7 linked regions of the Homo sapiens genome follow. The protein of the gene in region 1 purifies or fractionates together with the protein of each later gene. This does not show direct contact. Each region holds a gene or a part of one and is shown in the gene's direction. Other genes may lie near its edges. The genes, in order: CHST15, ILKAP, RABL6, FARS2, HCK, SLC35E1 and CASC3.

What was found.
Region 2: the proteins of CHST15 (region 1) and ILKAP purify together in Homo sapiens (affinity purification with mass spectrometry; one large-scale study listed by BioGRID and IntAct). This does not show direct contact.
Region 3: the proteins of CHST15 (region 1) and RABL6 purify together in Homo sapiens (affinity purification with mass spectrometry; one large-scale study listed by BioGRID and IntAct). This does not show direct contact.
Region 4: the proteins of CHST15 (region 1) and FARS2 purify together in Homo sapiens (affinity purification with mass spectrometry; one large-scale study listed by BioGRID and IntAct). This does not show direct contact.
Region 5: the proteins of CHST15 (region 1) and HCK purify together in Homo sapiens (affinity purification with western blotting, with the first as the bait; one study listed by BioGRID). This does not show direct contact.
Region 6: the proteins of CHST15 (region 1) and SLC35E1 purify together in Homo sapiens (affinity purification with mass spectrometry; one large-scale study listed by BioGRID and IntAct). This does not show direct contact.
Region 7: the proteins of CHST15 (region 1) and CASC3 purify together in Homo sapiens (affinity purification with mass spectrometry; one large-scale study listed by BioGRID and IntAct). This does not show direct contact.

What each region holds. Positions count from the first base shown.
Region 1 is NC_000010.11:124,023,737-124,027,726, reverse strand, and holds part of CHST15 (carbohydrate sulfotransferase 15), read left to right. Parts: intron 1-3,990. UniProt on the Homo sapiens protein: Sulfotransferase that transfers sulfate from 3'-phosphoadenosine 5'-phosphosulfate (PAPS) to the C-6 hydroxyl group of the GalNAc 4-sulfate residue of chondroitin sulfate A and forms chondroitin sulfate E containing GlcA-GalNAc(4,6-SO(4)) repeating units.
Region 2 is NC_000002.12:238,193,353-238,197,342, reverse strand, and holds part of ILKAP (integrin-linked kinase-associated serine/threonine phosphatase 2C), read left to right. Parts: intron 1-2,472; coding exon 2,473-2,538; exon of another isoform or gene 2,539-2,561; intron 2,562-3,011; coding exon 3,012-3,068; intron 3,069-3,990. UniProt on the Homo sapiens protein: Protein phosphatase that may play a role in regulation of cell cycle progression via dephosphorylation of its substrates whose appropriate phosphorylation states might be crucial for cell proliferation.
Region 3 is NC_000009.12:136,810,592-136,814,581, forward strand, and holds part of RABL6 (rab-like protein 6), read left to right. Parts: intron 1-1,996; exon of another isoform or gene 1,997-3,035; intron 3,036-3,342; exon of another isoform or gene 3,343-3,584; intron 3,585-3,891; exon of another isoform or gene 3,892-3,959; intron 3,960-3,990. UniProt on the Homo sapiens protein: May enhance cellular proliferation. May reduce growth inhibitory activity of CDKN2A.
Region 4 is NC_000006.12:5,768,162-5,772,222, forward strand, and holds the end of FARS2 (phenylalanine--tRNA ligase, mitochondrial), read left to right. Parts: intron 1-3,129; coding exon 3,130-3,268; 3' UTR 3,269-3,422; downstream 3,423-4,061. UniProt on the Homo sapiens protein: Is responsible for the charging of tRNA(Phe) with phenylalanine in mitochondrial translation.
Region 5 is NC_000020.11:32,069,002-32,072,991, forward strand, and holds part of HCK (tyrosine-protein kinase HCK), read left to right. Parts: intron 1-686; exon of another isoform or gene 687-750; intron 751-2,660; coding exon 2,661-2,781; intron 2,782-3,990. UniProt on the Homo sapiens protein: Non-receptor tyrosine-protein kinase found in hematopoietic cells that transmits signals from cell surface receptors and plays an important role in the regulation of innate immune responses, including neutrophil, monocyte, macrophage and mast cell functions, phagocytosis, cell survival and proliferation, cell adhesion and migration.
Region 6 is NC_000019.10:16,565,664-16,569,653, reverse strand, and holds part of SLC35E1 (solute carrier family 35 member E1), read left to right. Parts: intron 1-1,484; coding exon 1,485-1,622; intron 1,623-2,996; coding exon 2,997-3,122; intron 3,123-3,990. UniProt on the Homo sapiens protein: Putative transporter.
Region 7 is NC_000017.11:40,164,181-40,168,170, forward strand, and holds part of CASC3 (protein CASC3), read left to right. Parts: intron 1-2,616; coding exon 2,617-2,681; intron 2,682-3,190; coding exon of another isoform or gene 3,191-3,259; exon of another isoform or gene 3,260-3,317; coding exon 3,318-3,432; intron 3,433-3,669; coding exon 3,670-3,768; intron 3,769-3,990. UniProt on the Homo sapiens protein: Required for pre-mRNA splicing as component of the spliceosome. Core component of the splicing-dependent multiprotein exon junction complex (EJC) deposited at splice junctions on mRNAs.

The sequences.
Region 1 (3,990 bases):
TGGCCCACATCTCATTATGGGGTTGTGAAGATAGACGCAGAGCATGCATGCAGCACCCTGTACAGGGCATGGTGGTGGTGGCCCTCCCTACCCCCCAGCATCCACATCAGGAGTGGAAACTGAGAACATTGCAGGTACTAAACCCGGAAAGCAATCACACAGAGCCCTGGCGGGAGGAGCAGCAGCAGCTCCTGCTTTAATAGTGATCAACTCACCAACCTCTGCTCGCTGGCTCAGAACAGCACGCTGTAAGTGTCCCTGAATGAATCCAGCAGTGGTCTTGGCTGTAAGTGTCCCTGAATGAATCCAGCAGTGGTCTTGGCTGTAATCATCCAGATTTTACATAGTAGGGCCTTGCCACTGCTGGCCTCTCCTTTGTCCCTTGGGGAGAGACATGGTCACTTTCAGAGGCACTGGATTGATGGAGCCCTATGCCCCCTAACATACATTTCCCATCCCACCGCTCCTCCAGGGGTCCCAGGACCCCTGCACTGCACAGGAAAGGGGCTGAGCAGTACCCCATGAGCACGGGCCCAGTGTGAGGGGCCGCGCCGACAGCCTTCTAAAATAACCGCAGCACAGAAGGCCTGGAATGCATTTGGACTTATATTTGGAATTGTCGTTGGAAACAGTCCTGGCCAAATGTAATACCCATCTGTTCGGGATGGTTTGAGAGTAAGAAAATGAGGTGGCTCAGCTGGAGGGGGCTGGGCAGCCCTGAAACTCAGGGCTGGGAGGGTATGATGTCCCCTGGCCCCCACGCTATCCTGGAGCCCTCCTTCCCTCCAGCCTAGGCTGCTCCTGCCTTCTAGGACCATCCCCTCGTGTTAGCCTGCCCTGACTGGAGGTATTTCCCCTTGCCTGCAACCAGGCTTTCTTCCCGAACCTTCTGCCCGCTGGTCAGTCCTTCAGGAGTTCGGGACTGGGCTCCTTCCTGCTGAGTTTTTGCATCTCCAGGGAGAGCAGCCAGGTTTGGTGCCCAGCACTGAAAGCAAGCATCCGCTGAGGCCGTGAGCTGCCTGTCGCCTGGCTCCACCCTCCCACATTCCTCATGCCGTGCCCCTGTTAATGCATCCTGGGGTTGCATCCGTGCCCCTGCAGTTCTGTGATGATTGATCGTGAGCTGTGTGTTTTCCATTACATTGGTCTCCTTCCCCCACTTCCTCATGGGATAGTGGATTTTGAAGACTAAAAGGTAGACATTTCAGTTTGTTTCTGTACGTTTCATCTTGTTCCACAGTGTGCCTGTCTGGCCTTTTGACGTCCAGTGGATACTTGTTCTTGATATGTTTGCTGTTCTCAGCATTTTCTGAGTGGCTTTAACCTATCCGAGTGGCTTTCCCCCACCCAAGATTATTAACTCACTCTTTTCCCCTGGAGAGTAGTCAAGGGGGAAATGATAGCTTTGTTACTTGAAGACAATCTTAGGAAGCATTCGCTTAATTCTTGGGGAGAACCCAAAGAGTGCTCCCCCGTCTCAGTGCTCCCCTGTCTGAGTGCTCCCCTGAAGGGAAGTGCTCCTGTCCGCATTTGCCTTCCTTCATGCTTCCTTCTGGGAAATGTGGCCACATGACCCCAGTCCTCCCCTACCCTCAGGGCCACTGTTCCAGGGTCTCAGGGTGGCAGAGAAGTATTGGCAAAAATAACTCCTTGGAGTAATTGGTCTTCCTTAGAATTGGGGTTTAAAATCTGTCTGGTTTCCTAGGGCAGTCATAATAAATCACCACAAACTTGGCTTCTTAAAACAACAGAAATGTAGTCTCTTATGATTCTGGAGGCCAGAAGTCCTAAATCAAGATGTCTGCAGGGTTGGTTCCCTCTGGTGGCCCTAAGGGATAAAAGCCGTCCCCTGCTCCCAGCTCTTGGTGGCCTCCAGCAGTCCTTGGCGTTCCTTGGCTCATAGACGCCGCACTCCAGGCTCTGTCTCCGTCTTTCTGTGGTGCTGTCTGTCCTCTCCTCTTTTTATAAGGACACCTGCCATTGGATTTGGGACCACCGTAAATCCAGGAGGATCTCGTCTTAAGATCCTACACTTAATGACATCTGCAAAGACCCTATTTCCAAGAAAGGTCACATTCACAGGGGCTGGGCTTCAGACTTGGACATAATTCTTTGGTGTCCACTATCCATCCAACTACGGAATCCAGATGGTGGCCATGGCTTGTGGTGAATCTAGTCCCTGTTCAGATGTCTGTGACACAGCAGGATGCCAGGGACCCAGCATAGTTTCTCGCAGTGGGGTTCGAGGGGCTCCCAAAGCCCACTGCCAGTTCTCTGAGCAGATCCAAAGTACCCAGAGGTGACTGAGAGGCCAAAGGAGTCTCTTTTCATCCAGCCGAGGAAGGAGCGTGGCCTGGCTCTCAAAGGCTGTACATGTGACTCACAGGAAGTGAGGTAGTGAGTTCACTTTAACCCACCTCAAACAGATGAAAATCAGCCGTTTCACCTGCTAGGGGTGGGCTTGCCTGGTTGGAACAGTAGGTATGTCCCAGTTTTTCCTAGGGATTACTTCTTGATCTCTGAAGAATTGTATGGAATCAGCAGATTCCTCATGAAGTGACTTTGTATTTAAAATCAAGACAAGCTTAGGTGCTTTTGTTTTATTTATGAGCCAAATATCTGCAAGAAATGTTATTACCACAAAGAAAATTCTCAGTATGGAAACCTTCAGCCAGTGTTTGGGTTTGTGTGAGGTAATTTATGTGATGGAATTCCAGTTCCACCAAACAATTTGGGTAGTTCTGTGGGCATCTTTGGTAAAAACTGGGCTTCGAATACTTATTTAACGTGGGATTTTATGACAGTTTCAGAAGCATCTGTTACTTTTCATTGACGTAGTTTCTTGGGCTGAGCCATATTATTGACAGGACTCATAGGAAATGTGTGAGCCAGGAAGGGTACCCCTCAGACCAATTGCCACCTGGCACCCCTCAGTGCACACAGCCAAACCTTGCTTGAAGGTTCACGCGTGTCTGATTTTGGCACTTATTGACCAGCCATTTAGGTCATAGTAACCATGAGCGACCCTATGGCGACAGATGCCGTGTTTCAGTTTTGATGTGTCTTCTAATTCTGAAGAAGGAAAATAGCACAGGTGATGTTGGGGACACCAGTAATAAGCTGATGTGGTGTTGTCTTGGGGAATATTCTCAGGCGAGTGTGGATCTGGGGAAATCTACTCAGTGGCCACCGAGCCCCTTTGCTGACTGTCTCTTTGGACAGTTTGGCTGGCCAGGCTGTGGTAGATGGAACACTCCTGTTCCGGTGGGTGTTTTGATTCTAGGAACTCTGTGGGTAGATCTCAAACTGCTCAAGACTTCCAAGAGGTGTCCTCTGTGGACATTGGCCGTGGATGAATTCTAGAGGGCTGTGTCAGAGGCACCCGATGTGCCAAGGTGGGCTACGGAGGTGGATAGCTTCTGGGCCTGTCCCTAAGAAATGCTGCTCCTCATATCATGACCTCAATTAGAGGGGAGGGCAGTGGAGAAGGCGCATTTGCAACAGACCCTGCTATAAGGGAGCACAGTTTTTGCAGGGTAGTATGTGGCTGAAGGTCTGGGAGCGTTTGGAAGTATGGATGGCGGCTGGGCGTGGTGGCTCACGCCCGTAATCCCAGCACTTTGGGAGGCTGAGGTGGGTGGATCACCTGAGGTCTGGAGTTCGAGACCAGCCTGGCCAACACAGTGAAACCCTGTCCCTACTAAAAATACAAAAAATCAGCTGGGTGTGATGGCAGGCGCCTATAATTCCAGCTACTCAGGAGGCTGAAGCAGGAGAATTGCTTGAACCCGGGAGGCGGAGGTTGCAGTGAGCCGAGATTGCGCCATTCCACTCCAACCTGGGCAACAAAAGCGAAACTCCGCTTCAAAAAAAAAAAAAACGAAGACGGAAATATGGATGTCAGATACCTGGATGCATGGGTGCAGAATGAGAGTCACAGAATTGCCTTCCCTGGAAAGAGGGGAAGCCAGGTTGGAGAAGTTGAAGGAA
Region 2 (3,990 bases), on another chromosome or scaffold:
GGTTTTTGAGTCTGTCCGGAGAACGGGCGTTGTGATTGTTAGACCCAATGTTTGGGCAAAAGTGACCTACTTCGGGATATTAGGAATTCTTGTAAGTGGATTAATACATTGAGTAATGGTTATCCTAAATACTTTTTTTGGGTGCTGGGGACAGAGTCTGGTTTTGTCCCCCAGGCTGGAGTGCAGTGGCGCTATCTCAGCTCACCGCAACCTCCGCCTCCCAGGTTCAAGCAGTTTTCCTGCTTCAGCCTCCCAAGTAGCTGGGGCTACAGGCACCCGCCACCATGCCTAGCTAATTTTTGTATTTCTGGAGAGACAGGGTTTCACCATGTTGGTCAGGCTCATCTTGAACTGCTGACCTCAGTCCTGACCTTGACCTCCCAAAGTGCTGGGATTATAGGTGTGAGCCACCACACCTGGCCATACTAAATACTTTTTAATGGCTTTCTTCTGCTTCTTGTATACTTCTAATAGAGTCTTTATGTCACTTGTAAGAAAAGTGAAAGTATTTGCAATTCCTTAATTTGTTTAGGGTCATCCTGAAGGATTAGAATACATTTTCCCATTTGTATTAGGGATATAAAGCAAAATAGTTATTTTTTGTTAACTCAGGAATTTCTTGTGTATTTTAGGTACTTCTGACGCAAAGACCCCGGGAGAAATTTCATTCCCTTAAGTTTATAAATTTTTAATTAAAGCTTTTGTTTTTAAAAGAAGAAAGTTGATACCCAGCTCATTTCTAAATGGAGGCAAAAAGATGATAGGGATGACCCTCTTGGGGGATATAAATTTATTTGTTTAGTTGAATTGGTGTTTGGCCTGGCACAATAGCTCATACCTGTAATCCCAGCACTTTGGGAGGCTGAGGCGGGTGGACCACTTGAGGCCAGGAGTTTGAGACCAACCTGGCCAACATGGTGAAACCCCGTCTCTACTAAAAATACAAAAATTAGACCAGACATGGTGGCTCACCCCTGTAATCCCAGCGCTTTGGGAGGCTGAGGCAGGCAGAACACTTGAGGTCAGGAGTTCAAGACTAGCCTGGTCAATATGGTGAGACCATGTCTCTACTAAAAATACAAAAATTATTTGGGCATGGTGGTGTGCGCCTGTGATCTCACCTACTCAGGAGGCTGGGGCAGGAGAATAGCTTGAACCCGGGAGGTGGAGGCAGTGAGCGAAGATCACATTACTGCACTCCAGCCTGGGCAACAGAGTGAGACTCAGTCTCAAAAAAAAAAAAAAAAAAAAAAAAAGTGAATTGGTTTTTAAGTGAGTACTTTTTTTTTTTTTTTTTTTGTGACAGAGTCTCACTGTGTTGCCTAGGCTGGAGTGCAGTGGCCCAATCATGGCTCACTGAAGCCTTGGCCTCCCTGGGCTCAGGTGATCCTCCCACCTCAGCCTACTGAGTAGCTTGGACTACAGGCGCCTGCCACCACACCTGGCTAATTTTTGTATTTTTTTCATAGACATTTTTTTGCCATGTTGTCCAGGCTGGTCTCGAACTCCGGGACTCAAGCAATCCTCCCACCTCAGCCTACCGAAGTGCTGGGTTTATAGGCATGAGCCACTGCGCCTGGCGTAAATGAGCACGTTTTTATACTTGAACTCTGAGGAGCAAGAGGTGGGATAGAGCTGGTGTGTTTGGTTGGTGTGTTGAACTTTGCAGGAGGTGAACGTGTATACTTTCAACTTGGATTCTTGTGTGCCAGTTCAGATATCTAATAGCTTAAACAGAATTTCAGGAAAAAGCTGGAAAATAAGGAATGGTCGTTAAATTTTATGTGGAAAAAGATAATTGGGCATAAAACATTTAAGACATACTTTTGGAGTGTAAATCTTCACATTTTTTGTTAAAAGAGTTTCGTGACTTTCTCCTGAGGCTATCTGTCTTTGGTTACCTGAAACTCCTTTATTTTCTCCATAGCTATTTATTGAATCAGACACTGTGCTGGGGCTAGGGACACCAGGTTCCAACAGATTTTCTTCCCTTGCAGAATGTTACCGAAATAGGATTTTTATAAACCTGTAGGTCTTTGAAGGCCCCTCCTCCACCCCACCCCAAATTTCTGAACGTCTATCAGGAAGTCTCAAGTATTGTTTTCCTGGTCTAGAATCAGTTTTTTTCTTCCCAGGATTCTATTTTAAAGAAAGACTTTTAAATGTTTCATGCTTTCAATAATGAAATTATCAAGAAAATACTTGTTTTCCTCAAAATATTCAGTGGCCCTGAAGATGCCTGTTAGGGCATCAATCATTGCTTTTATGTTGACTGTAACTGTTGGAAACAGATGTCCATATTAAAAAAGCTGTTAAGAAAATATGTTTTAAAAATTTGCCCAACAGGAAGGAGAAAATTAGAATCTAATAGCAAACTTGTGTCAAAGCAGGGGAGACCACATGATCTTCCTCTTTGAAAATCTGTCCTGGGTGATGACCATATGCTCTCTAAACAGGTTTTCTGTGTTTTAGGGAAAGAAGCTCAGAAAGGACCCCTGCTCTTTGATGACCTCCCTCCGGCCAGCAGTACTGACTCAGGTACAGTCTTCAGGCTCTCCCAGGTGTGTGTCAACGTCTCTACTCATCCTGGGATTGTAGTTGTCTCAATCTTTTTCCCTTTCCCCCATTTTCAACACACAGATGTTTTAGGTGTTGGACTGTCTTTAAGTTTTGAATCCATGGCATCAGGTAAGGCAGAAAAATCTGCTAGTCGCTAGCCCTGAGAAGTACTGCGAGGAAATGTGGAGCAGTTTTCTCTGGTTCATTTGAGTATTTATTTTACTACCTGAAGTACAATTTAACTTTTTAAGGCAGATTTTTATTTCCTTTGAAATAATAGGACTTTAAAATAGGTTCAAGATATTATTCATTGCAGTATGAGTTGCCACTGGATTGACGCAAAGTTTTGAGTTTATTTCAGTAACCTACATAGGTGTCCTGGTGGGATGGATTCTGAAACTTAAGTCTTACATATTTTTTGTGGGCTCACTAAGTGTTCTGCTGTGTTTCAGGATCAGGGGGACCTTTGCTTTTTGATGATCTCCCACCCGCTAGCAGTGGCGATTCAGGTAAGTGGTAGGAAAAATCCAAGGTGCTGATGGAAATAATACATAGTATTTTACTCTTATGTGAAATTTATGTATAGGTTTTAACGGGATTTTGGATGACATTAAGTCATAATACAGCATAAGGTTTACTAAAACTATAAACAGGCACATTAATTGGAAGCACAAAGATAATACTGTATCACTTTCTGGTGATATTAACTTCTTGAGGTTCAGATTGTTGGAACTGCCTTTAAGAATTAAGAGTTCACTAATTTACTCTTAACTTTGTTATTAACATTTTTTAAAAATTCAGAGTTCATTATTCCGATTTGCCTTGTTAAACAGAGTGCTTGACTCAAATGTATCGAGGCTAGTAGCATTGGCTCTACCTCCTCCTGAAAATGTTCCTTTTCATGTCCTAATTAAGTAGAAGGGAAGAATAGAGCAGATTCCTGTTGCCATTGCGGCAAAGGTATGATTCTGTCTCATGAGAACTTCTTAGGTAGAGCTCCTCTGGTTGGGGAAGGTGAGGGTTAGGAGAGGTTGGGAGATAGATGGTGTGGGGGCAGTGGGGAATGCAGGTAATCCCATTTCGTATGCAGGTATATTTTCTATATTTTAGGAAAAGTACTCCAGTCATCTTATATAAGAATTCTCAATCTTCAGGGCTGTAGACCCATACCAAAAAATTGCAGCATCCTCACACTCACAGTGTGGCCTGAAACCTTCCCAATAAAGATAGTACCCTTAGTTGTAATGAAAGTTAATATGTTCTGGCTGGGCGTGGTGGCTCACGCCTATAATCCCAGCACTTTGGGAAGCCAAGGCGGGTAGATCACTTGAGGTCAGGAGTTCAAGACCAGCCTGGCCAACATGGCGAAACCCTGTCTCTACTAAAAATACAAAAATTAGCCAGGCATGGTGGCATGTGCCTGTCGTCCCA
Region 3 (3,990 bases), on another chromosome or scaffold:
AGTGCAGTGGCGTGATCTCAGCTCACTGCAAGCTCCTCCTCCCGGGTTCACACCATTCTCCTGCTTCAGCCTCCCGAGTAGCTGGGACTATAGGCACCGGCCACCACGCCCGGCTAATTTTTTGTATTTTTAGTAGAGGCAGGATTTCACCGTGTTAGCCAGGATGGTCTCAATCTCCTGACCTCGTGATCTGCCCGCCTCAGCCTCTCAAAGTGCTGGGATTACAGGCGTAAGCCACCATGCCCGGCTTTCTGGTATTTATTTTCTCAAATATTTTACAGAGCGTAACAGACCAGCAATGTGATCAAGACAGAGTCGAGGGTTTTGGGGGTGAGAGTTTCTGGGAACTGCTGCGGGTTTCCAGGAGTCTGGGCTCTCCTCCTGGGCCCTGCATTTGCTCGGAGTTGCTAGTGGTCCCGGTAGACGTGTGGGACACCCACTGGTTTTAGAATAAAAACTCGAATGAGACATTGGACCATAATGGATGAAAAAGTCAAACTCTGTCAAATATTTGAAGAGATTTATTTTTGAGCTGAATATGAGTGACCATGGCTCGTGACATAGCCCTCAGGTGACCCTGAGGACATGTGCCCAAGGTGGAGGGCACAGCTTGGTTTTATACATTTTAGACATGAGACAGTAATCAAATACATTTAAGATATATGTTGATTTGGTCCACAAAGGCGGGACAACTTGAAGTGGGGGCTTCCAGGTCGGAGGTAGTTTAAAAAAATTGTGTTTTTTTGCCGGGCGCGGTGGCTCACGCCTGTAATCTCAGCACATTGAGAGGCCGAGGCAGGCGGACAACCTGAGGCCAGGAGTTCAAGACCAGCCTGGCCAACATGTCGAAACCCCGTCTCTACTAAAACTATAAAAATTAACCGGGTGTGATGGTGGGTGCCTGTAATCCCAGCTACTCAGGAGGCTGAGGCGGGAGAATCGCTTGAGCCCAAGTGGCAGAAGTTACAGTGAGCTGAGATTGTGCCACTGCACTCCAGCCTGGGTGACAGAGTCAGACCCTGTCTCAAAAAAAAAAAAAAAAACAATTGCACCACCACACCCAGCTAATTTTGGTATTTTTTAGAGAGACAGGGTTTCACCACGTTGCCCAGCTGGGCTCAGACCCCTCTACTCAAGCAGTCCGAACCCCTTGGCCTCCCAAAGTGCTGGGATTACAGGCGTGAGCCACCGCGCCTGGCCAGATTATGTTTCTTATCAGACTTAAAGTCAGTGTTGATGTTAAATGCTGGTGAGCTTTTCCTGAATTCCAGAAGGGAGGAGGCCACAATGAGGCCTGTCTGACTCCCCTCTTCCCATAATGGCCTGAACCAGTCTTTCAGATGAAATTTGGATGGCCCTGGCCTAGAAGAGGAAGTCCATTCAGATGGTTGGCAGGCCTTGGGATTTTAATTTTGGTTTACACAATTTTGAAATTATTTGCATATAAAATTATTAGGAAAATTATTTGAAATTATTTGGAAGAAAGATTGTTGCCTGAGTTGGTCTGTCCCTTTCTACTGTGACTGGACACAAAATATCAGTTGTATTTGGTGCAGAATTTTTCTGTGGAGTTGCTCCTGAGTGAGCATTATTGTGCAGCTCTGATACTGGCCTGGCCCAGGAGCTCGGACAACCAGAGTCCTCTCTGAGTAGACACTGGTGCGAATTTAGAAATGGGACTTAGCAGGCCGGGCACGGTGGCTCACACCTGTAATCCCAGCACTTTGGGAGGCTGAGGTGGGCGGATTACATGAGGTCAGGAGTTCAAGACCAACCTGGCCAACATGATGAAACTCATCTCTACTGAAAATATGAAAATTAGCCAGGTGTGGTGGCGTATGCCTGTAATCCCAGCTACTCGGGAGGCTGAGGCAGGAGAATCGCTTGAACCCGGGAGGCAGAGGTTGCCGTGAGCCAAGATCACACCACTGCGCTCCAGCCTGGGCGACAGAGTGAGACTTCGTCTTAAAAAAAAAAGAAAAGAAAGAAAAGTTTATATGAATATCCAGTCAAAACAAACAAGGAAGGTATTACCCTTGAAATGTTGTCTATACGAATTTCCAAGGAGACCACAGGACTGTAGACTGTCTTGGAATGTCCTCAGAGAGCTCTGTCATTGATCAGGTAACGGAATAAAAACCCCAGCGTCCTTTCTTTCAAATGGGAGAGGGAAAGACAAAGGGACAGAAGCCGTTCAAACTTTGTCTTCTTTCCTTGTGGCTTGTGGTCACCTCTGCCTCCCCAGAAGCTGCCTCGCCCACCAAAGCCTTCCTGGCTTCTGCCACCACCTCATCCTCCAAAGCTTCCTCTACCTCCATCACAACCCCAAAGCCACCTTCGCCCTTAGGTTTGGCCCAGTCCAAGTTACCTTTGTTTCCCTCAATTTCACCATCTTCCGCGGCCTCCTTGGCGCTTTTGGCATCCTCCTCACTGTTGCCATCTACAGAGCCAAAGCCTTTGGGGCACCCGGTTTCCTGGTTGGTGACTACCCTTGCCCAACAAAGCTGTCGAATGACTAAAGCCTCTTCAGTGGTGTCCTCAGACAGGCCTTTGACAGACAGTTTTAGATGGCTGGCTCCTGGCATCAGGTGGTCCTTGCAACTCCAGCCTGATTGCCCTGCCCCCAGTTTCCCTTTTATTACAGGAATTTAAAGCTGCTTTATCATCTTCAAATGAAGCGAACTGTAAGTGCATGCACACCCTTTAGATTTGCCATTTTGGTTCTGGGGCACTTTGATAAAAGTTGCCTTGTCTCAGATTCTTTCTGAAGAGTTTCTTCTGTTGCACTGTAGGAGAGGTTGCTTAAACCAGAGTTTTTGATTCACCCCTCCAAGTGGTCTCTCTAGTCTTGATTTAGACCTTTCTCTCCATGATAGTGCAGGGAAATAGATCGGCCATCCATCTCTGTTCCCTGCGTTTCTTCAGAAGTTTTCTCTGCATTAGCTTCTGTCTTAACCTCAATATAAGCAGTCCCTTTACTCTTCCCATCCTTGCTGACTAATCCAATCTCCACAGCATCTTCAAACACTTTTTTGTTTTTTGAGCCAGAGTCTCGCTCTGTTGCCCAGGCTGGAGTGCAGTGGCCGTGATCTCAGCTCACTGCAAGCTCCACCTCCCAAGTTTGCGCCATTTTCCTGCCTCAGCCTCCCGAGTAGCTGGGACTACAGGCACCCGTCACCACACCCAGCTAATTTTTTGTATTTTTAGTAGAGACAGGGTTTCACCGTGTTAGCCAGGATGGTCTTGATCTCCTGACCTCGTGATCTGCCTGCCTTGGCCTCCCAAAGTGCTGGGATTACAGGTGTGAGCCACTGCGCCACTGCGCCCAGCCAAAACACTTGTAATTCATCCTGAGTGACTTTGTAAGGGAGATTTGTAGCCAAAAGTATTCTCACATCTTGCTCTTTCTTACTGTCTTTTCCTTTTGGTTTCTCTAGTTTAATTTCATTGCCAAAGTCTTTCAAACCAGCGAGTTCCAAGGCTCTTTCCAGGTCTTCAGCAGCTTGAAAATCCACATAGTCAGATTTCCTTGTCATACCCATTCTGACATCCACAACAGCAAGATCATTTTTAGCAAAAATATCATGGATACTAGTTTTTGTTTTTCTTTCTTTTTCGAGACAGGGTCTTGCTCTGTTACCCAGGCTGGAGTGCAATGGTGCTCACTGCAGCTTCCACCTCCCGGGTTCAAGTGATTCTCCTGCCTCAGCCTCCCCAGTAGCTGGGACTACAGGCACGCACCACTACGCCCGGCTAATTTTTGTATTTTTAGTAGAGACAGGGTTTCATTATGTTGGCCAGGCTGGTCTCAAACTCCTGACCTTGTGATCTGTCCACCTCAGCCTCCCAAAGTGCTGGGATTACAGGCGTGAGCCACCAGGCCTGGCCCATGGATACTAGTTTTTAACTCAGGAGCAGACTTGTTAAAGTTCAGGTTTCCAACAAAGATTGAAAGACGTTCCAGCCTGGCCAACATGGTGAAACCCCGTC
Region 4 (4,061 bases), on another chromosome or scaffold:
TTCTCTGTCATCATTCATGTTAGGAAAAGGCAAACCTGGTTGACTTTCACTTGATTCTATTGAATTCAACAGAATCACCAAACAAACATTCTGCTAAATAGTATTTCTCTCATATCTATATATTATGAGTATTTATCTCATAATCCATGTATTTATGAATCATTTACACCTAATTCATCAAAATGCTCTGTATAAGTTGTTTGAATCCCAAGAATCCTTATAGAGGCCTTTTTCTGAGCACATAGAAATAGGAAAACAGATTTTTCCCCATCCATCTTCAATTGGCAATAACTTTTAGAGGTGCCATATTACCAGCTCTTCTGCTAGGAGGGACCAGAGTGAAACAGTGAAAAAACACAATGTGATAATAATTGCCACAATGATACTTTCACCTCACACCCAATTAGCACTTTATAATTTGCAGAGTCCTGTCAATTTCTAAACAGGCCCTGATTTCTCCATATCTTCTCCAATACTTGTTATTTTCCTTTTGTTTTTAAAATGAGCATCCTAATGGGCCTGAAGTGGTATCTCATGGTGGTTTTGATTTGCATTTCCCTGATGGCTGAAGTTGAACATTTTTTCATGTGCTTGTTGGCCATTTGTTTATCTTTGCAGAAATGTCTATTCAGATCTTTGGTACATTTGTTTTACTATGTTGTTGGCTATTTTATCGTTGAGTTGTAAGAGTTCTTTGTATATTCTAGATACAAATCCCTTATCAGGTATATGACTTGCAAATATCTTCTCCCATTCTGTGTGTTCCTTTTTGACTTTCTTGATTGTATGCCTTGAATTAAAAAAAATGCCTAATTTTGATGAATTCCAAGTTTATCATTTTTTTTAATTTTTTCACCTGTGCTTTTGGTGTCATCTAAGGAGGTTTTGCCTATGCGGTCATGAATATTTACTCATCTGTTTTCTTCTAAGAGTGATAATAGTTTCAGCTCTTATATTGAGATATATGATATATTTTGAGTTAGTTTGTGTGTGTGTGGTGTGAGGTAGGGATTCAGCTTCATTCTTTTGCATGTGGATATCCAGTTGTCTCAGTATCAATTGTTGAAAAGACATTTCCCCCTTGGATAGTCTTGGTGCTCTTGTCAAAAACCAAATAACTGTAAATGGAGCAATTGTAGTTTGAATGGAATGGGTCAGCACTTGGTGGCAGCAGGGGTCTTGGCTATGTAGTTTCATAAGCTCCCACTCCTGGAGAGCCTCTGTTTTCCTCTCAAAGCCAGGTTTTTCTGTCTCGCTGCGTTTTGGTGCCTGAAAGGCTTGGGTGGGCATGGTACCTGGAGTACTGTTGTTCGGAGCACAAAGTGAGGAGAAAAGACCACTCTACTTTGTGGGAGGTCCTTGGGGCAGTTTGGGCAGCAGTGCCTCCCCCAGGAGTCAGGGTCCCCACCCCAGAGGAATGTCCACAGAGCAGAGCCATTGGCCTGAGCTGGACTGAAAAAGAAAGAGCCAGGTGGGGAGAGGATTTGATTTCTCCCTTGGTCTAAAGCAGGCAGCTGACATTGGGTGAGGGAATGGGGCAGGCCTCCATGTGCTATCGGGAATCCCCAGGAGGTCCCTACAGAAAACTTCCACCCCCAGCCCAGCTTGTTTATCACAGCCCTTCAGTGGTAACTTCCTCCTGTGGCTTGATCCAAACGGGGGCTGCATATGTGGCCAAAATGCACATAACCCTGTGAGGCACAGCATAGCAGCTTATCTTCCCTGAAAGTGGAAGGACAAAAGCAGGACAAAGATGACCAAGCCAGGGTGGGAGAGAGGGGAGGAGACACTGGAAGGGGAGGTGAAGGGGCAGACTAGGGAGGCCAGGACCAAGGCAGACTCTCATGCACCAGGCATATTCTGCCCAGCCAAGGGCTCTGGCATTCAGATGAGGGAGAGGGAGAGGAAAGAGGAGAGAATCCAGTGAGACCAATCCATGAAGTGTCGGGAGGACCCTGGAAGCAAAGGCTCTGGACTCAGGTGGCATCAATGGGACTACCAGTTTCCAGTGAATATGTGGGAGTGGCCTAGGTCCAGCTCAATCAGAAGCCCATTTGTTCAAGGCCCTGGTATTACTGAAGGCCCAGCCCTGTCTCACCTGCCAGAAAGCACGTGGCCTCTCCCTGGCTAGGCTAAGGGCTGGTTGACGGCATCATAAAAGGAATCTGCCTGGGAGCCCTCAATTTGTTTCAGTTTCCTCCCCCAAGGCCAAGAAGGGATTGGGTTGCCTCTGTTGTTGTTGCTGCTGCTGCTGCTGCTGCTGCTGCTGGGGGTTGGAAAAGAGGAATTTGTGTGACCAGATCCCCTTATTGTATAGAAGAAGAGAAATGTGAGCATTCAGAGATGGTGAGATGTCAGACACCCAGCCACACAGCCAGTGAGAGACATGTTGGGGACAGGGCCAGGCCTGCCAGTTCATGGCCCAGGGGTCTTTCTCATGAGATCAACTGACCAGTGTGTCTTAGCACCTGCCATGCAAATAGAAGGCCCTACTGCTGTCATCTCCACGTATTCCAGAATTACTCAGCTGTTCTATGCAAGCCAAGTCAACACCAATGTCATAAAGGAGAGACTAAAGTAATTCTCTACACAGCACATACACGGCATATATGGCCTGTATGCTTCCTGGACAGCCAACAGGGGTGCCGAGGGAGTGAGTCCCTCAGCCTTGCCTGGAGCCTTGCTGATACTTCAGTTTGCCTCACAAACACGGTTACCTTCCATGACATGAAGGAGGCACACGCGGGTTGACCCCTGACCCTGTCTGCTTGTTAGAATCACGTCGGGAACCGGGGACAGGCTTAGAAGCCCAGGTCCCACCTCCCACCTGCTGAATCCAAATCTCCAGAGCGTGGCCTGGGAAATCAAATTTGTCAGCTTCCTTCCCAGGGGACTTTGATACATCCACCCCAGTGGAAACCAGCAGCCTCCTTTAGTCAAGCGAATGTTTCCCTGACTGTCACCTTCTCCCCCTGTATAAGATGCAGATTGTTAGCGGTAAATGGTACCTGGATTCCAACCTCAGTTCTCCACTGCAGTTGGGGAGATCTGGCCAGGGCAAGCCACACTGCTCCTTCAGGCACAGCCTTGTTCATCCCGCACTCACCTGTGTTCTCTTCCTCTCTGTAGGACGCACAAGACCAGCCACTGCTACCGCATCACGTACCGCCACATGGAACGGACTCTGTCCCAGAGAGAGGTCAGGCACATCCACCAGGCCTTGCAGGAGGCTGCAGTCCAGCTGTTGGGTGTGGAGGGCAGGTTCTGATGTCACCACTTCACTCAGGCTGCAGCCCTCTTGGGGCTCCAGGATTTGCTGAAAGAGAAAAAGATATGGTTTGTGAACTGGGGCATCAATCATCTTTTGATAAATGGATCAGTTTTAGGACTTTCAGAAAATAAAAGATCGCTCTTGAAAAGCTGTTGACATAGCATTTGTCTTTTATTTGGGGAAAGGAGGAAGGTCTTTTCCTATTCCTTTTAGAAGTGCTTTGCCCACTGGCATTGGTGCTTAGTATGGTTAATTGGTCCCTGGGTTCCATTAAGCACCAGGCATGATTTCTTGCCTGACAGGCTCTTCCACTCAGGTAATGAGTGAAGCCACACAGAGGGACATCAGAAATTCCAGATACAATACAGGAAGCTTTTTGAATCAGCTTCCATTCCTTCCTCCCTTCTCTTCTTTTTCAGTTTTGCAAAGGGCAGGCTTCAAAGAGGGCACTAATGAAATGCCAGGGCTCTCGTCCAATGTGAAGGGAGGTGCGTCTTTCAGCCAGGGCAGGATATCTATTTGCTTTTCATAAACCCATGGCTTGGAGTCAGGCCTCTGGCCCCAGGACTTGGGCTTAGCTGCCTTCTGCCCCACTGGAGAGGAAGGAAAGGGGCGAGAGCTGCCCCAGAGTCTTGGAGGCACACAGAGGGGCCAGGTCCTCAAACTCCCTTCAAGTTTTCCCAGCAGGCAGCCTCCACTTCCAGAAGGCGACCTTTAGGGAAGAATATGGGGCTTTGATGTTCCCCCCTTTCCATCCCAGGCACTTTGTAGTCTGCCTGCCTCATTCATG
Region 5 (3,990 bases), on another chromosome or scaffold:
AAAAAAGCGAACTTCTCCAGTGTTGCAGTATCTCTAGGCTTGTGGGCCAGAGGAATTGCAAACTGTGCTTGCTTCATGATCCGGGGCAGTGTCACGTCTGCCAGTAAACAGAAATAGTTGTGGTTAATGTTTCTGCAGCGCTTACTGCATGCTGGGCACTTTTACACTCATCAACTTGCTCAGTGCTCACCACCACCCTATGAGGTAGAACCCTTGCCACCCTTTCTCAGAGATGGCCTTGGATTGTGAATGAACACAGGTCTTCTGAGACCCCTCCCTCGGGACCCTGTGGCCATCTTGAATATGTACATTGATCACGTAAGTGAAGCATACAAGGTGCTCAACGCGCATGGATTGGAAATCACAAGACTCACAGCTGCAGATCAGTGGGTGCCCAGAGAGGTAGAGTGAGCTGCCCTACCTCACACAGTGCTGCTCTTCCCAGAACATCTTTATGCTGACCAAAACACACGAAATGTGATATAATTTTATGTCATATATGTCACACAAGATGCCCGTTTAATTTCCCAGAACTGTAATACACATTTATCTCAAAGAGAGATGCTGGTTTCAGTTTTAAATGCATGCAAGTACATTATAAATCTGTGCTTAATTATGATAATTTTTCAAATTAATGATCCAGCACTCCAAGAGTCTGAATGTGTTCCTTATTTTATTTCCAAAAGACAAACAAAGCAAAACCGCTCAAGTCTTGAGGTGGCAAATCTTTCCCAGTTCCCACCAGAAGAGGTAAATCCTTGTAAATAAAAGGAATCTTTTTTCATTTTTAAAAGTAACTCATCTAAGCCTAGGAGTTTGGGGTTTTTTTCCTTAAACCACAAATACATGTTTATTTTAACAAGATAAGTATAACTGAGTTCTAACTGCTTTAGAAGAAAATGGCAATTGTGCAGAGATGAGAAAAGCAAGCACTTCCTTATGTGGTTGTCACAGCCTGCCTTCTCAGCAAATGTGTGTGCACATTTTGAGAAAAGAAATGAAACATTTCTTCCACTTTTACAATTATGTTTTGACTCTACTTGGAGTAAATGTGTTTTGTTTAAGCATCCTTAAATTAATTCAATACAGCAGCAAAGTCTGCAAGCTCTACCTCCAAAATGTCCCCCAAACCTGTCCAATGCTTACCTCCTCTCTGCCCCCACACTACCCTGGGCCACCATCATCTCATACCTGAACAATTTTGGCAGATTTCTCACAGGGTTCCCTCCCCTGCTCCCCACTGTCCACGCCTCACTCAGCCACCGGTGGGATTATTTAAAGTGCAAATTGAATCCCATCATTCTCCTGCCAGAAACTTTCCATCATCCTTAGAATAAAATCCAAAGTCCTTACTGGCCCTACAGGATATGGTGGCCTTGTCACAACCACCCTCTTCCCTGCCCATGAGCTTCAGCTACACTCTCCTGCTTTCAGTGCCTCCAACTTCTCTCTAAGCACATGCCAGCCTCAGGGCCTTTGCATTTGCTGTTCCCTCTGCCTGGAACACTCTTCCCTCAGAGTGTCCCCTCACTGGCTCCTTTGTGTCATTTAGACCGCAGGTTCTGTATCCCTTTCTCTGACAGGCCTTCCCCAAATGCCCTGCCTAAAAGAGCCAGACCTGTTGTTCCCCACAGCATCCTCTCTTATTGTCCTCACACTTTTCATTAACTCAATTTGCCCTGTTATTTATTTGTTGGCCTGTTTATTGTCTCTGTCTCCCATTCGGCTGCAGTTGAGGTCCTGAGGGCGTGAACTTGCTTCTCTTCTTCACAGTTTAGAAAAGTGCCCAGTAAATCTTGGCTGTGTAAATGGATGAATGAATTACCAAACAACTCAGAGAGAGACAGAGAGAAAGAGAGGAGGAAGAGGAAGAGGAAGAAGACGAAGAAAGAGGAGGAGGAGGGAGGACAGAGGAGGGGGAAGGAGGAGGAGGGGAAGGAGGAGGAGGGGGAAGGAAGAGGAGGGGGAGCAGGAAGGAAGGGAGGGAGGGAGGGAGGGAAGGAGTTATAAGCAATTTATAAATTGATACCAGTAATACGGTGCCTTGACAAACTAGATTGTTTGAGCCATGTTATGTGACCTCATCTTGTTATTTAATATAAAAATGGCAATTTATCATCTGATAATACTGCAGTTTTTCTGTAGTGTTTGCTCTGAGCCTGACACTGCACTGAGTATTTCCCCACTGTAGGTCATATTATTGTCCCCATTTTGCCGATGAAGACCTGAGAGGTGGGTAGGGGCAGGAAAGTGGTCAGTGAGGTGCTGGTGGGGTGGAGGGGCCAAGGATCAGCTGAGGCTTTCTGACCTGAGAGCTGGCAGTGCCCACCCAACAGCTCTACCTGTTACATTTCTGTTATCCTCATGCCATCCTCTGAATAAACATCCATCACGCTGGTCCTTGGTACCCACGACAATGACAGCTTGTCAGCCCTGGGCCAGTGCTGTGGCACGTGGACATGGGGAAGCCCAGAGGTGGCAAGGATGGAGTGGGTTCCATGTGGGGAGGATAAGGGTGCATGGAGCTGGCAGGGGAGTTAAGACCGGGAAGGCCAGTGGGAGCCAGCCCGGGGGCAGGGGACCTGGAATGCCAGCATCAGAAGACTTCCCCGCATGAGGCTCTTGGTAACTGGGGCTCACCTCCCTTCTGTCTGCTGCAGGATGGGGTGCATGAAGTCCAAGTTCCTCCAGGTCGGAGGCAATACATTCTCAAAAACTGAAACCAGCGCCAGCCCACACTGTCCTGTGTACGTGCCGGATCCCACATCCACCATCAAGCCGGTGAGTAGGGGAGGTCCCAGTTTCCCTGGGGGCTGACGGATGCTGCCCCAACATTGCCCTAACAGCCTCCTGTCTTCCCAAGGTTGGGCAGGGTGAGCTTGGGGTGAAAGGGAGCTGACTGGCCACCAACAGTGTCCTGACTCGACTCTCCGGGACGCAGCGCCAGCCAGCATGCATAGGGGCAAAGAAGTCATCTCTCTTTCCTGCAGCCCAGGCTTGGCCCCTCAGCCTGAGCTCCACCAAACAGGTGTGAGTGAGCATCTCAGGCCTCCGGCCTGGGCAGAAGCAAAAGCAGTGCTGAGAAACGAGTGAACAGTAATGATAGCAGCTGAAGTGACAATGTAATGGTAGTATCAGCAGCATTGCAAAAATACAGTAACAATTGTCATACTAATAGTACCAACCATAATTGCGTGAGTATAAGACCAAGAGTAGCAGCAGGAACAACAGCAAGAGTTGTAAAAAGAGAAGCAGTCATGCTAGGAGAGGTATTTACCAACTTCTTTTATGTTTATACAAAGCTGACTATGAACCCAGCACTGTTGTAAGCCTTTACGGTTATTAACACCCTAATCCTCACAATAATCCTATTGTGTGACACACAAATACATTCTTCTTGAAAATAAAAACACAGGCCAGGTGCAGTGGCTCACACTTGTACTCCCAGCATTTTGGGAGGCTGAGGCAGGAGGATTACTTGAGCCCAGGAGTTCGAACTGCATGAGCTATGATCACGCCACTGCACTCCAGCCTGGGCAATACAGGGAGACCCTGTCTCTTTAAAAAAAAAAAAAAAAAAAAAAAAAAAGAGCTGCTTAGAATGCCATAGTTTAGGTGTCACTTCCCCCTTGCATGGACACTTAGATTGTTTCACATACATAACAGAGCCTTTATTTATGGAATATAAATCACTGGTGGGCCTGTGATTTCTCCAAACTTAGTCGGAAAACACTGATCTGGACCGACCCCTTCACTGTGTGTTGAGGGGAGGGGTCAAGCAGCATCCCCCGGTACATCCAAGACCGAAGGCCGAGGTCACAGCTCAAGAAACCTGGATCCTGGCTGGGCACAGTGGCTCACTCCTGTAATCCCAGCACTTTGGGAGGTCAGGAGTTCTAGACCAGCCGGGCCAACATGGTGAAACCCCATCTCTACTAAAAATACAAAATTAGCCAGGCATGGTGGCATGCGCCTGTAATCCCAGCTACT
Region 6 (3,990 bases), on another chromosome or scaffold:
GGCTGGTCTCAAACTCCTGACTTCAAGTGATCTGCCCTCCTCAGCCTCCCAAAGTGAAGAGTGTTCTTTGTAGGACAGGATTGAGCCGAGAGTCAGAAGAGCTGGACACGCGGGAATGGATCCTGGTGGATCCTGGAAGTTGGGAGTTGTTTAGCCCTGCATGCCAGACCTTCTAGAAGGCTCTCTGTCACTATGTTTGCTACTCGTTCATTCAGCTAGCAGCTATTGAGTGCCTACTGAGTGCTAGGCACCAGGATAAAGCAGTGAACAAGGACCTGCTCTAAGGTACACTAACGGGACCGGATGATGTAACAGACAGAGTGGGTGGAGAGGCTGGGCACGGTGGCCCACGCTTGTAATCCCAGCACTTTGGGAGGCCAAGGTGGGCAGATCACGAGGTCAAGAGATCGAGACCATCCTGGCCAACATGGCAAAACCCCATCTTTACTAAAAATACAAAAATTAGTTGGGCGTGGTGGTAGGCACCTGTAGTCCCAGCTACTCAGAAAGCTGAGGCAGAAGAATCGGTTGAACCTGGGAGGCAGAGGTTGCAGTGAGCCGAGATCATGCCACTGCATTCCATCCTGGTGACAGAGCGAGACTCCGTCTCAAAAAAAAAAAAAAAGAGTGAGTGGAGAGCTCTCTGCTGGGGAAGTCCAGGCAGTGGCCCTGGGAGCACAGCACAGGAGCCTCCCAAGGTGGAGGTGGGTTGGAGAAAGCACTCCTTGTGGAGGCAGGAGGTCACTGGGAGGAGAAGGCATCAGTGGAGTGTGCCAGCCAGGAGTAACCATACTGGAAGAGCCTGAAGTAAGAGGGAATGGGGGCTGGGCACAGTGGCTCACACCTGTAATCCCAGTACTTTGGGAGGCCAAGGTGGATGGATGACGTGGATCAGGCGTTCAAGACTAGCCTGGCTAACATGGCGAAATCCTGTCTCTACTAAAAGTACAAAAAAATTGGCCGGGCGTGGTGGCACATCCCTGTAATCCCAGCTACTGGGGAGTCTGAGGCAGGAGAATCGCTTGAACCCGGGAAGCAGAGGTTGCAGTGAGCCACGATTGTGCCACTACACTCCAGCCTGGGCGACAGAGCGAGACTTTGTCTCAAAAAAACTATTTTTTAAAAAGAGGGAATGGGGGAGCCTTATAGAGGATCAGGGCTTCAAACCCTGGTGCGTCAGTGGCAGCTGAACAGATCTGTGGAGTTAGGACCAGCCCCGGGCTGTGGCCCTGAGCAGAGGCTCTTAATGGGGGTGACGGTATGGGGATGGGGCTACCCACAAATAAGCCCTGCCCCTGGCGCTCTGATAACCACCTGCCCCCAGCCACCCACCAGAGCGTCACTGGCACAGCAAACACCACTTTCAAAGTGTTAGGTGGTATCCCTTTGCTGAGGGAGGAGAGGGGCTCTTCCCTGGGCATCTGTGGCATGTGGCCCAGCTCTAGTCTGGCCTGTGAGCCCTTCTTGATGACCTCTTCCTGCAGGTATACTTGTCACTCATCCCCATCATCAGCGGTGTCCTGCTGGCCACCGTCACCGAGTTGTCTTTTGACATGTGGGGACTCGTCAGCGCCCTCGCCGCCACGCTGTGCTTCTCGCTTCAGAACATTTTCTCCAAAAAGGTATTTGGTCACCATCAGCGGACATGCATGGGGTTTCAGGGGTGTGCGGGCAGCAAACTGGTGGCATTGGGAAAACAGGCGGAGTAGAAATTTCTTTGCTATTAGAGCAGAAAAATCTTGATTGCCATTCTGCTGATTTTCTGTTTGTCATTTTGCTTTTTAAATAGTTTGTTTTTCTGGCCGGGCGCAGTGGCTCATGCCTATAATCCCAGCACTTTGGGAGGCCAAGGCGGGCGGTTCACTTGAGGCCAGGAGTTCAACACCAGCCTGACCAATATGGCAAAACCCCATCTCTACTAAAAACATAAAAATTAGCCAGGCACGCATCTGTAATCCCAGCTACTCCAGACACTGAGGCACAAGAATTGCTTGAACCCAGGAAGCGGGGCTTGCAGTGAGCTGAGATTTTGCATCACTGCACTCCAACCTGGGCAAGAGTGAGTCTCCATCTCAAAAACAAAAAAAAGTTTTTCTATTATAAAGTTAATGTGCTCAATAAGAAAAAAATAAAGAAAAGCTCTTTTATTGAGACCAAGGCTCACTGTCGCCCAGGCTGGAGTGCAGTGGCACAATCATAGCTTACTGCAGCCTCAGTCTTCGAAGCTCAAGTGATCCTCACACCTCAGCCTCATAAAGCACTGGGATTACAGGCATTAGCCACCAGGCCTAGCTAAAAACTTCAATTTAAAACAAGATTTTAAAACTTGTTGAAGCCTAGTGCAGTGGCTCACATCTATAATCCCAGCACTTTGGGAGGCCAAGGCAGGAGGATCACTTGAGGCTAGGAGTTCGAGACCAGCCTAGGCAATAGGAATAGAGTGAGACCCCGTCTCAAAAAAAAAAATTGCTCTTAACTCCTGTGATAATCACACACTTTTCAGGTACCACAGTTAATGCAGTCTCTCTATTGGAAATACCACTTATTTCCAACTTTTCATTGTAATGTAGAAACAATCACGTGTGTGATGTTTTCCTGTCTCAGTTATTTCATTATGATAGGCTTACAGTTCTCAGGTTAGAGGGTATGAAACGTTAATCACTCTTAATATGGTTTGTCTGGTCGTATTTTAGAAAGGTTATACCAATTCAGCCTCAAACCAGTGGAATTTCAGAGTGCCTACTTCACTTCATCCTCACCAGCACTGAGTGTTACTGTTTTATTTTTGTTTTCTTTTCTCAGTCGTTTATGCGTGGAGCATGGTGCTTGTTTCAGGCCTGTGCTGTGTATGTCCTCACAAATGCACTTGCAGGTTTGGTGTCCAAGCTCAGATGTCAGGGTTAATGTCCAGTCACTGTGTTTGGGGCCTGAGTCACTGGAGCCCTTTTTGCCACATATAGTTTTAATCACCCTCTAAAGAGGCTTTCCCTTTCCAGGTCTTGCGAGATTCACGGATCCACCATCTCCGGCTGCTCAACATCCTGGGCTGCCACGCCGTCTTCTTTATGATCCCCACCTGGGTTCTGGTGGACCTCTCGGCTTTCCTGGTCAGCAGCGACTTGGTGAGTTGTACAGCACCAAGAACACGCCATTTTCTTGGCTAGTTCCAGAATAGGTGCTTTGTTGAGGAGCTGTAGCTGCATGTTAACATTGTGGTATCTTTTGGGCACCTGACAGCCAGCGCTTTCAGCAGTCAGTCCTCTGTAATGCCTCACGGTGACGATGCACGCCATCGAGGAAGTGGGTTTCCTGTGTATTTCCTTCTCTGGTGTGCTTGATCCCAGGTGCTGATAGCTGCTGTGTGTGCGCCAGTAGCGTCAAGGAAGAGAAGGTGACTCTTTCACCTCCTGACAGTATAGTCCAGATAGCACATTGACTTTTTATTTTTACTCATTTTTTATTTTAAATGTTTATTTTTTAGAGACAGAACCTCGCTCTGTTGCCAGGGCTGGAGTGCAGTGGCACAATCATGGCTCACTGCAGCCTTGACCTCAATCCGGGGCTCAAGCGATCCTCCCACAGCCTCCCGAGTAACTGGGACTGCAGGCGAATACCACCATGCCTGGCTAATTTTTTTTTGTTTGATTTTTGTTTTTTTACTGTTTTTGGAGAGACAGGGTCTCACTATGTTGCCCAGGCTGGTCCTGAACTCCTGGCGTTAAGAGATCTGCCTTGGCCTCCCAAAGTGCTGGGATTACAGATGTGAGCCACTGTGCCTTGCCAGCCCTGGAACTTTGAAAACTATGCACTGGCCAAAAAAAAAAAAAAAAAAAAAAAAAGCCGGGCGCAGTGGCTCACGCCTGTAATCCCAGCACTCTGGGAGGCCAAGGCGGGCGGATCACGAGGTCAGGAGTTTGAGACCAGCCTGGCCAATATGGTGACACCCTGTTTCTCCCAAAAATACAAAAATTAGCCAGGCATGGTGGCTCG
Region 7 (3,990 bases), on another chromosome or scaffold:
ATTGGTGGCTAGCTTTTTCCCCTTTGCATCATCAGGTTTAGGGGCATGGGACTTCTGTCTCAGGAAGGTGGTGTCTGACAAATGTCTACTTCTTTTTTTTTGAGACAGAGTCTCACTCTTTTGCCCAGGCTGGAGTGCAGTGGCGCGATTTTGGCTCACTGCAACCTTCGCCTCCCAGGTTCAAGTGATTCTCCTGCCTCAGCCTCCTGAGTAGCTGGGGTTACAGGCGCACACCACCACGCCCAGCTAATTTTTTTTTTTGTATTTTTATTTATTTATTTGTTTTGAGATGGAGTCTTGCTCTGTTGCCTAAGCTAGATGCAGTGGCACGATCTCGGCTCACTGTAATGTCCACCTCCGGGTTCAAGTGATTCTCCTGCCTCAGCCTCCCGAGTAGCTGGGAGTATAGGCGTGCACTACCACGCTGGGCTAATTTTTGTATTTTTAGTAGAGACCGGGTTTCACCATGTTGGCCAGGATGGTCTTGATCTCTTGACCTTGTGATCCTCCCACCTTGGCTTCCCAAAGTGCCGGGATTACAGGTGTGAGCCACAGCCACCGTGCCTGGCCTTTTTTTTTTTTTTTTTTTTTTTGTGACAGAGACTTGCTCTGTTGCCCAGGCTGGAGTGCAGTGGCACGATCTTGGCTCACTACAACCTCTGCGTCCAGGGCTCAAACAATTCTCCTGCCTCAGCCTCCTGAGTAGCTGGGATTACAGGCTCTCACCACCACACCTGGCTAATTTTTTTTTTTTTTTTTTGAGACAGAGTCTCACTGTTGCCCAGGCTGGAGTGCAGTGGTGTGATCTCGGCTCACTGCAAGCTCTGCCTCCTGGGTTCACGCCATTCTCCTGCCTCAGCCTCCTGAATAGCTGGGACTACAGGCGCCCACCACCGCGACTGGCTAGTTTTTTTTTTTGTATTTTTAGTAGAGACGGTTTCACCGTGTTAGCCAGGATGGTCTCGATCTCCTGACCTCGTGATCCGCCCACCTTGGCCTCCCAGAGTGCTGGGATTACAGGCATGAGCCACCGTGCCTGGCCCACACCTAATTTTTGTATTTTTCATAGAGATGGGGTTTCATTATGTTGGCCAGGCTGGTCTCGAACTCCTGACCTTAAGTGATCGACCCATCTTGGCCTCCCAGAGTGCTGGGATTACAGGCGTGAGCCACTGTGCCAGCCCCAGCTAATTTTTAAAAAATTTTTTGTAGTGATGGGTCTTGCTATATTGCCCAGGCTAATCTTGAACTCCTGGGCTCAAGAGATCCTCCTAAAGCGCTGGGATTACAGATGGAAGACACTGCACCTGCCCGGTCATCATTGAGCCTCCTGAGTACAGGATCATTTTCCACAAAAAGTAGAAGAAGACAACGTTATTATTTGAACTAATGGTTAAATATTTGAAGGCAGAAATTTATTCAGTTGAATTTTGATCAAGATCTTCTCTAATATATTTGAAAGGCAAGCCTCCCTTATTTCCTTAATCTTCTAGAGACAGATTGCCCAATAGAACTTTGTGTAATGATTGTACTTTTGTGTTTTTGTTGTTGTTGTGTTTACATAGATATAGTTTTTTTTTTTGTTTTTTTTTTTTTTTAGATGGGTCCCACTTTGTCACCCAGGCTAGAGTCTGGAGTGCAGTAGCGTGACCTTGGCTCACTGCAACCTCCGCCTCCAGGGCTCAAGCAATCCTCCCATCTCAGCCTCCTCAGTAGCTAAGATCATAAGCACACATCATTACACCTGGCTGATTTTTTTTATTTTTTGAAAAGACGGGGGGTCTCACTGTGTTTTCCAGGCTGGTCTTGAACTCCTGGGCTCAAGCAGTCTTACCTCTGCCACCCAGAGTGCTGGGCTTATAAGCATGAGCCACTGCATCCAGCCGGAATTGAACTTTTAATTAATTGAAACTTAAGTGTCCACATTTGGTTAGTGGATATCATATTGGGCAGCATAGTTTTAGAGAGTAAGACCTACCTATTACCCATTTTGCCTATTGTGGTTTGTTTTTCTCCAGCCAGATAGATCAAAGGATCTTCCCTTAGTCTGAAATCTAACTTAAATATTGGAACTCCTCAATTGGAGTTGCAGCACCCTTCTTACTATTGGAGGACAATCTCTAGAACATTCCTTTTTGTCTTGAGTCATTTTAGCCAGAGGAGAATCTCCTTTCAAACTTCCAACCCAGACCCCTGTGAATGGATATAATCAAGTAGATTTACAAAGCATCCCTCCCTTGTCCAGCTGTTGCTCAGAAACTCTTGGGCTGAGATTTTTCAATATGTTGGATAATGTAATGTGCTAATTATAATCTCTCAGGGATTCTATGCAGGGAACAATTTGATAGGAAAAAATTTGAATTTGATTTTCTTCACTGAAGTCATTTTATTTTTCATTTTCAAGGGCTTTATTGCTATATTAAGATGGCAGACAGTGGGGACAAATTTCTAAATGCTGGTGTTGACAGAAAGCAGAGATAGTTTATAGAGAATTTTATTAGTTAAAAGAAAAAAGGCATTCCTTATGTTGACACTTAAACCTGTCTCTTGATAGTATCTTTGAGTCCCACTCACGTATGTCTGATCTGCAGAAGTGACTTTTTTGGTGTATTACAGGTATGCCCAACCATATACACATGGGAGCAGGACCTCCACCTCAGTTTAACCGGATGGAAGAAATGGTACAGAAGGGGAAAGGGGTAGATGGGGGAGGGAGCTGCCTGTTACACAGCTTGTTCATTGTTTAAACCAAGATAAGGTCTTTTTTTTTTTTCTTTTCTTTCTTTCTTTTTTTTTGAGACAGAGTCTCGCTCTGTTGCCCAGGCTAGAGTGCAGTGACGGGATCACGGCTCACTGCAAGCTCTGCCTCCTGGGTCCCAGTTCAAGCAATTCTGCCTCAGCCTCCCGAGTAGCTGGCATTACAGGCACGTGCCATCATGCCCAGCTAATTTTTGTATTTTTAGTAAAGACAGGGTTTCACCATGTTGGCCAGGCTGGTCCTGACTCCTGACCTCATGATCCACCCACCCTGGCCTCCCAAAGTATTGGGATTACAGGCATGAGCCACCACGCCCGGCCAAGATAAAGTCAGTTTTTCCATTGATTATGCATGTTTCTTTTAATTTGGATCTCCTAAATGTAAGGTAGAAGGTTTAGGTTCAAATCTTGATATCTTTTCATTATTTTTCAGCTCACTTTGCAAATATCCATTAAATACCTGCCATGTACCAAGTGTTTTTCAACACCTAAAGGAAGGTAGGACTTGATATGAGAGCCCTCTAGAATTCTTATTGTTTAGGCCTCTTTCTTTGTCTCAGGGTGTCCAGGGTGGTCGAGCCAAACGCTATTCATCCCAGCGGCAAAGACCTGTGCCAGAGCCCCCCGCCCCTCCAGTGCATATCAGTATCATGGAGGGACATTACTATGATCCACGTGAGTTTTTTCTTACTGTTGGGGTACTTTTCTTGGCAGGGTGAAGTGAAGTAAGATACCAGGCTCCTGGCTCCTGAATTTCTCTTCTGACCTCTTATAGTGGTTATCAAACATTGTCTGGTTGCTGTTTTCTTCGCATGGAATATTGAGAACATCTTTTAAAGGGCTTGGGGAACAAGGAGACTTGTCCATGTGAAGAGTAAGGGTTTATGAGAGTCCCAATGTGATATCTTACAGTGCAGTTCCAGGGACCAATCTATACCCATGGTGACAGCCCTGCCCCGCTGCCTCCACAGGGCATGCTTGTGCAGCCAGGAATGAACCTTCCCCACCCAGGTAAGCTTTGTGTCTCTGCTTATATGCTTCCAGTACCTGAGGATATATGTTGGGAGTGCCACAAAACCCATCCTCCTGAGCTTTGTGCTGCTAGCCTGGGAGTCTGGCCATCCTGGCTGCTTGGGCAACAAGTTCCTCTTGTGTCCATCCTGAGGACTTCCATTCTGAGCCTGATTATACTGAGCAGTCCAGCCGGGCCATCCTGTGAAAATGATGTTACTT